Regions from separate parts of the Homo sapiens genome. Here region 2 is linked to region 1. Evidence: fine-mapped expression QTL. A gene starts in region 1. The other region holds a variant in brackets. All regions are shown on one strand. Distances are between the middles of the regions.

The links.
Region 2: its variant is fine-mapped to the expression of MNDA in whole blood (TOPMed, PIP above 0.99).

The regions. Positions count from the first base shown.
Region 1 is chr1:158,829,831-158,832,755 of GRCh38, reverse strand. It overlaps MNDA (myeloid cell nuclear differentiation antigen), which reads right to left and starts at 1,405. Exons shown (of 7, transcript NM_002432.3): 1 at 1,199-1,405. It also overlaps a transcript of OR6N1 not described here.
Region 2 is chr1:158,800,202-158,803,126 of GRCh38, reverse strand. It overlaps a transcript of OR6N1 not described here. Among named protein-coding and RNA genes, the nearest start is that of OR6N2, 20 kb to the right of the region's middle. The variant A/G (reference allele first, on the strand shown) is at 1,169.

The DNA of each region.
Region 1 (2,925 bases):
TATATTCTTCAAACTCTAACTTAAAGAAAGACTTTTTAGGAAAAATAGTGTAGCTTAAAATAGGCTTAAGTCAATAAGTATCAGTACATAGTTTCACTACATAATGGTAAAGTATGCAACTTGGAAAAAGATATAATAATTTAAATTATATTATAAATATAATCTGTTATTACTTTATAAAGTAGCATATAGAAGTTTTTTCTTCTCTCTAAACACACACATAACATATATACTTAGATATACATATTCTATGTAAAAATATATGGTAGAAATCAAAAGAACTACAATGAGAAATTAACAAAATCACTATTAGAGTTGGAGATTTCACCACATCTCTCAGTTACTGAAAGAACAAGGTAAAAAATAGCTTAGATTTAGATTTAGATTTTTCAAACATAATTAACAAGCTTACTTAAGAAACTTTATCTTACTTAAATAGAATTTGGAATCCAACGTTTATAAACTCTTCTCAAGTACTCATGGAGTAATTAGAAAACATTCATATGTACAAAGCCATAAAAAAGTCAAAATGTATCCCAAAGTAGGAAATATATAATTGATTCTCCCTGTCTTTTCATTATACCTTGCCACAAAAAATGTTATCTATGACTGAGTAAAGCATAGACCATTTGAAAAAGAGAATTATTTCTTCTTACACTTGTTGTAAAATGAAGCATAAAATGAAACTGATTCATGAAAATGTAAAGATTATTTTTGAGTAAATGCTTGTAAAATTGAGAAATTAATGTGTGCACATGTCTATGCTTTTTAAAATAGAGATAAAATCATATAATAGAGATTTATATCCTGGTTTATTTTTTACTAAATATTACTTCATAATAATTTTCTTATCTGACTGTCTTGTCTTTTAACTTAGGCCCAAACCCAGTCACCAAGTCATCCTCCAGCCAAGAAAACCAAGTATCTCCTCTAAATATCAATTTATGCCAAAAGACACCCAAGAATTAATTTTTAAAACCTGCTGTAGACAAAATACATTTTTTTGGTTCATACCCCAATTGTGGTAGAATAAAAGATATCCATTTGCTACCTAGACAGTTAAAGCATTCAGTTCTCAGTTTTCTGAATATGATTGATAACAACACTTCTGGTCTCAGGCAATTATTCTCTACTGAGATGGTGTGGTTACCAACTAGATACCTAGATCTTTCTCTAAAGAACTTCCCAGAAATCTCACCTTAATGGATGCTTCTTCCACAATAGTCTTCAGAAATCCTGGAGTCACTGTCTTGTTTAGGACAGAATCACTGTCCGTAAAGCTTTGGAGAGATTAAACTGCAGACTATTTTAATCTTGTAAAGGGCTGAGAAATGAAAGCTAACAAGGAAAAATGGCACTTGTTAGAGCCACTCTCAATCTTGATTGTAGATGGCCTTCTTACACTGTCCTAATTCCTAACTAGAAAGAAGTTATGTAATCATGAAACAATTTTGAAGCCACGCCTATCAGCCTTTGTAGCTTTCTATTTCAGATGTCAGAGAAAGTGGTCAGTTCCTCTTTGTAGTAAGTAATCTCAGTCACAAGGAGAAATGACAGTAAATGGTGCCTCTTCTTCGCTTTTTTGACTTACAAATACTTGCTGAAAGGAGTTTCAAACTCAGAACTTTCTTATAAAGCTAACTTACATATAGGTCATTAGAAACCGGTAGCCGCTTGAATAAGGATCTTAATATAAATTGGGAAAGGCAAAACACCAAAGTTTCTCCCTCCTTTCCTGTTCACAGAGTGGCAGGAGCAGGAGATCTTGGTAGAGATGTCTATTGCTACCAGAACTTGACTTCATCTCTTGGATAGGGGTGGGTCTACTGTGAAATTGTTTTTGTTTAAATAGTACCTACATATTCACCCAGTTATTAATAACTGATACACCTGGAGCTTGACAGAGGCAGAAAGTCATTATGAATATGTAAATCCTTATTCAAATAATTTGAAAGAGTTTCATACTAGTTGCTCTCTTGAGTATAATAACTGAGCTGCCTTACCTTGATTATTAAATTCATGATTACTCATGCTTTTTGCATTATTTATGGATAGTTGGTTCATATCATGACTGAAACCTTGAACATTCTGGAACAGCACTGAAACTCTGGAATGATAGGGGGCCTGATAAACCCTTTGTACTGCAATTTTTTTTTCCTGTGAAGAACAGTGGGTGCACTACAAAGTATCATAACTCTGAATTGTCAAATGAATGGTATCAGTTAGCAGACAGTGCTGTGGTTACCAACTAGCTGATCTGTAAGCAAAATGTGGTCATGACTGGAAAAGGATCCCAAAACAGCTAATAGGGGAAAATGATCCAAGGCCATCTACAGAGAAGAATAAAGCTGATTGTCTTAATCCAAACCAGCAGCATAGAGAGAGTTAAAGTTTGGATTTGGAAACTGTCTAAACCCCACTAAAGCAGGGTAAATCAGAAAAAACCAAGAGGATCTAGAATGACAGCCACTAACACATGTGGGTGTTCATTGTTTCAGTTTCTCTCTTATGCTGATGCTTCGAGCAGGTCTTAAGGTAAAGGGTAAAGAGGAACACAAGGAAACCTTATCAGGTGCCCCACTTCAGTGTTTGGGAACCAAAAGAGCTCACGACAGGAGTTACCATGTTTCAGGACAGCTTTCTGCCCTGATATGGTTTGGCTCTGTGTTCCCACCCAAATCCCATCTTGTAGCTCCCATAATTCCCACGTGTTGTGGAAGGGACCTGGTGGAAGATGAATGAATTATGGGGGCAGATCTTTCCCATGCTGTTCTCATGATAGTAAATGGGTCTCATGAGATCTGATCGTTTTAAAATAGTTTTTAAAAAATGGGAGTTGCCCTGAGCAAGCTCTCTCTTTGCCTGCTGCCATCTACGTAAGATGTGACTTGCTCCTCCTTGCCTTCCACCATGATTGTGAGGCTT
Region 2 (2,925 bases), 30 kb after region 1:
TGTTAATCTTTTTATGGTTACCTCCGTATCTTAAATTTAATATAGCAACTGCTTTCTTTCCACCTGATTCTGAAAAATAAAAGTACATTTGGGGCTATGAATGATTCAAATACCTTACTTCTGATAGATAAATGCTGTAATTCCATTATTCATCTGGACTCCATATCCATCTAAGTACATGCCCACAGAGAACACACAGCTGAGATAAGAGTTCAGATGTCAAGATTAGGATGTTGATGAACATATTGAGGATATGGATATAAGTAAAAGTAATAATGAAAAAGTAGATTAGTCTCATGAAGATGCCTGGGTAATAATAATGGTAGTGATAATGTAAGTAATGGTAATAATACTGGTGATGGAGACTTAGACAAGTGTATTAGGTATTCAACATCAATCATTTGGAACAATGGCTAAAGATAGCTGACATGGCAAAGGGAGGGACAGTGGTGAGAGTAACAAAGGTAGAGATGGTAAGCGCAAAAGTGATAGTGGTGCCTGTGCTGTGATAATATGGTGATGTGGTGAGGTTAGTAGGGATGGATGAGAAATCTCCTTGCAAAAAAAGCTTTTAAGATGAAACTCACCTCTGGGGTGCTAAAGATGTGATTCTTCATGTATTCAAGTTGGATTGTCTCTTCTCATGAAAAGCTATGACGGGGAGGCCAAGGCGGGTGGATCACGAGGTCAGGAGAGCGAGACCATCTTGGCTAAAATGGTGAAACCCTGTCTCTACTAAAAAATACAAAAAATTAGCTGGGTGTGGTGGCACATGCCTGTTGTCCCAGCTACTTGGGAGGCTGAGGCAGGAGAATCGCTTGAACCTGGAAGGCAGAGGTTGCAGTGAGCCGAGATCGCTCCACTGCACTCCAGCCTGGGTGACAGAGCAAGACTCCGTTTCAAAAAAAAAAAAAAAAAAAAAAAAAAGTGCTATGAGGGACTTGCAGAACTTCTAGAGTCCCAGAAGAGGCAGTGTCCCTGGGATTGGATTCTAGAGCCAGTGAGGGTTGCAGAAAAGCCATTTGAAAGAGAGTAGGGCTGCTTTACTTCTCTGTGTCCAACTTCCTACCCCAGAGGAGCACTTACAAAAAACTTTACACACTTAGCAACTCCAGAGAACATATAGCAAGGAGCCCCTGGGAGGTCAGCATTTCCAGGAACATGAAAT[A/G]TAAGTAGGGGAGTGTCTTGGGGTAGAAAAGATGCAGAGGAGGATGTTGTAAATTCTAATGTCATCAAAACCATCAGGTAATGGGCAGGGGTGGTACAGAAAAGATTAGAGTATCTAAAAAAGAGAACTAGGTAAAGGCTTTGATCTTTCCCAGATAAGGACTATTAGAATATGGAAAGAAAACTCCAGGGACATTGATATAGACCACCCAACTCCATATCCACCCTAGAAACATTTTTCAATGGCTTTAGAGATCCACAGACTACCAGGGTGGTGAGGGGCTTTATACAACATTTATATAGAGAAGGGGAAGTTGAAGTAAAGAAAGGAGAAATGGTTAAGCCCAATGTTCATTTTGAGTTAGTGGCAAAACAAGTTTACAAAGTCAATTTAGAAATAGAATGCTTTTTCTGTTGCGCTACAGCCCTTCTAGACCAACAATATAGGGGCCTTAGCTTACCAATTCCTCTCTCTCCTCATTCCCTTTGAGAATTCCTGATGCATGTCTCCCTTAGGAATCCTTCTTTAAAATGTACTTTGTCTGTTCATTGATTCTTCATGTAACCCTGCAGTTCTGACTTTGACAGATGGGACATTTCTTTAGGGACTAGATGGATACTTTTCTGTCTCTCCTGTTTTCTGGCAAGGTGGGTGGGAAAAAAACCCCGGCATTTAACAATTTTGTTTTAAGGAGCCAACCCACTCTCTCTCTCCCCACCGCCACCCCCACCTTTTTCTCTTCTTCACATACACACACAGACAGACCACACACACACACACACACACACACACACCAGTATGTGCAGCAACATACTGACTAACACCAAGAAACAGACTTTTTTTCATTTTGTTCTATGTACTTTTGTGATGATGGGAGGTCATGAAAAGTGGTGGGAAGGAGTGCATGGATTGGTGAGAAGTGAATGAGCAAAACAAAAGAAAGTCTCATGGAAGTGTAGAAGTGTATTGTGATCTCTTCTCATGCCTTAGACTTTAGAATGCTAACTGGGCACCCAGTTGCTACTTCTCTGAAGGTTCTCTGAAGACCAAGCGTGGAACTGTAGGATCCTACTAGGAGATTCCCTGTCTGAGGATAACATAGCCATAGCTTATTGAAGATACAAAAAGAAAACTTATTTTTGAAATAAAAACTCTCTGGACAACCTTTTAAAATTTCTTTTTAGTGATAGCGTAAGTTTTGGGTTTCCTGTTTTTGAAAAATGATGTTGAAATGCTTTCTTTCCAAATGCAGGGATGACTTTGTATTTATTTTAGCTTATTTTAAGAGAAAAGATATGTGTAGAGAACAATGTGTGTGGAGTAGCATACAGCAGCATTATCTCCCTCTCAATTTAGTAAATTTGACTAAGATCACAGAATGTTCTGGGGTCCCCACCTATTAAATGTGGATAAGTTGTCCAATTTGAGGTTTTTCTATGGCAATATACCCTCAGGTAAATTTTCTCTGAGCATCCAGCTCAGATACGGACTATATTCTCTTTTCTGACATTTGGTGGATCCTAAATAAAGGCAAACCAATTTTAATATTGTCAAACCTTGAAAATTAATGTTGTGGAGAAAAACAACAACAGCAAAATAGTAGAAATCAAATCCTTGATTTTTTTTTTCTTTCCTAGGTAAAAGCAACTTTTCCTTTGTGGTATGGGGTAGATAGGTTCAACTGTTGGGGTAAGCCAAGACAACTTTTGAAGACTTGCTTTGAGCAAACACCATTTGCAGCTAGGTGAATTCCACCA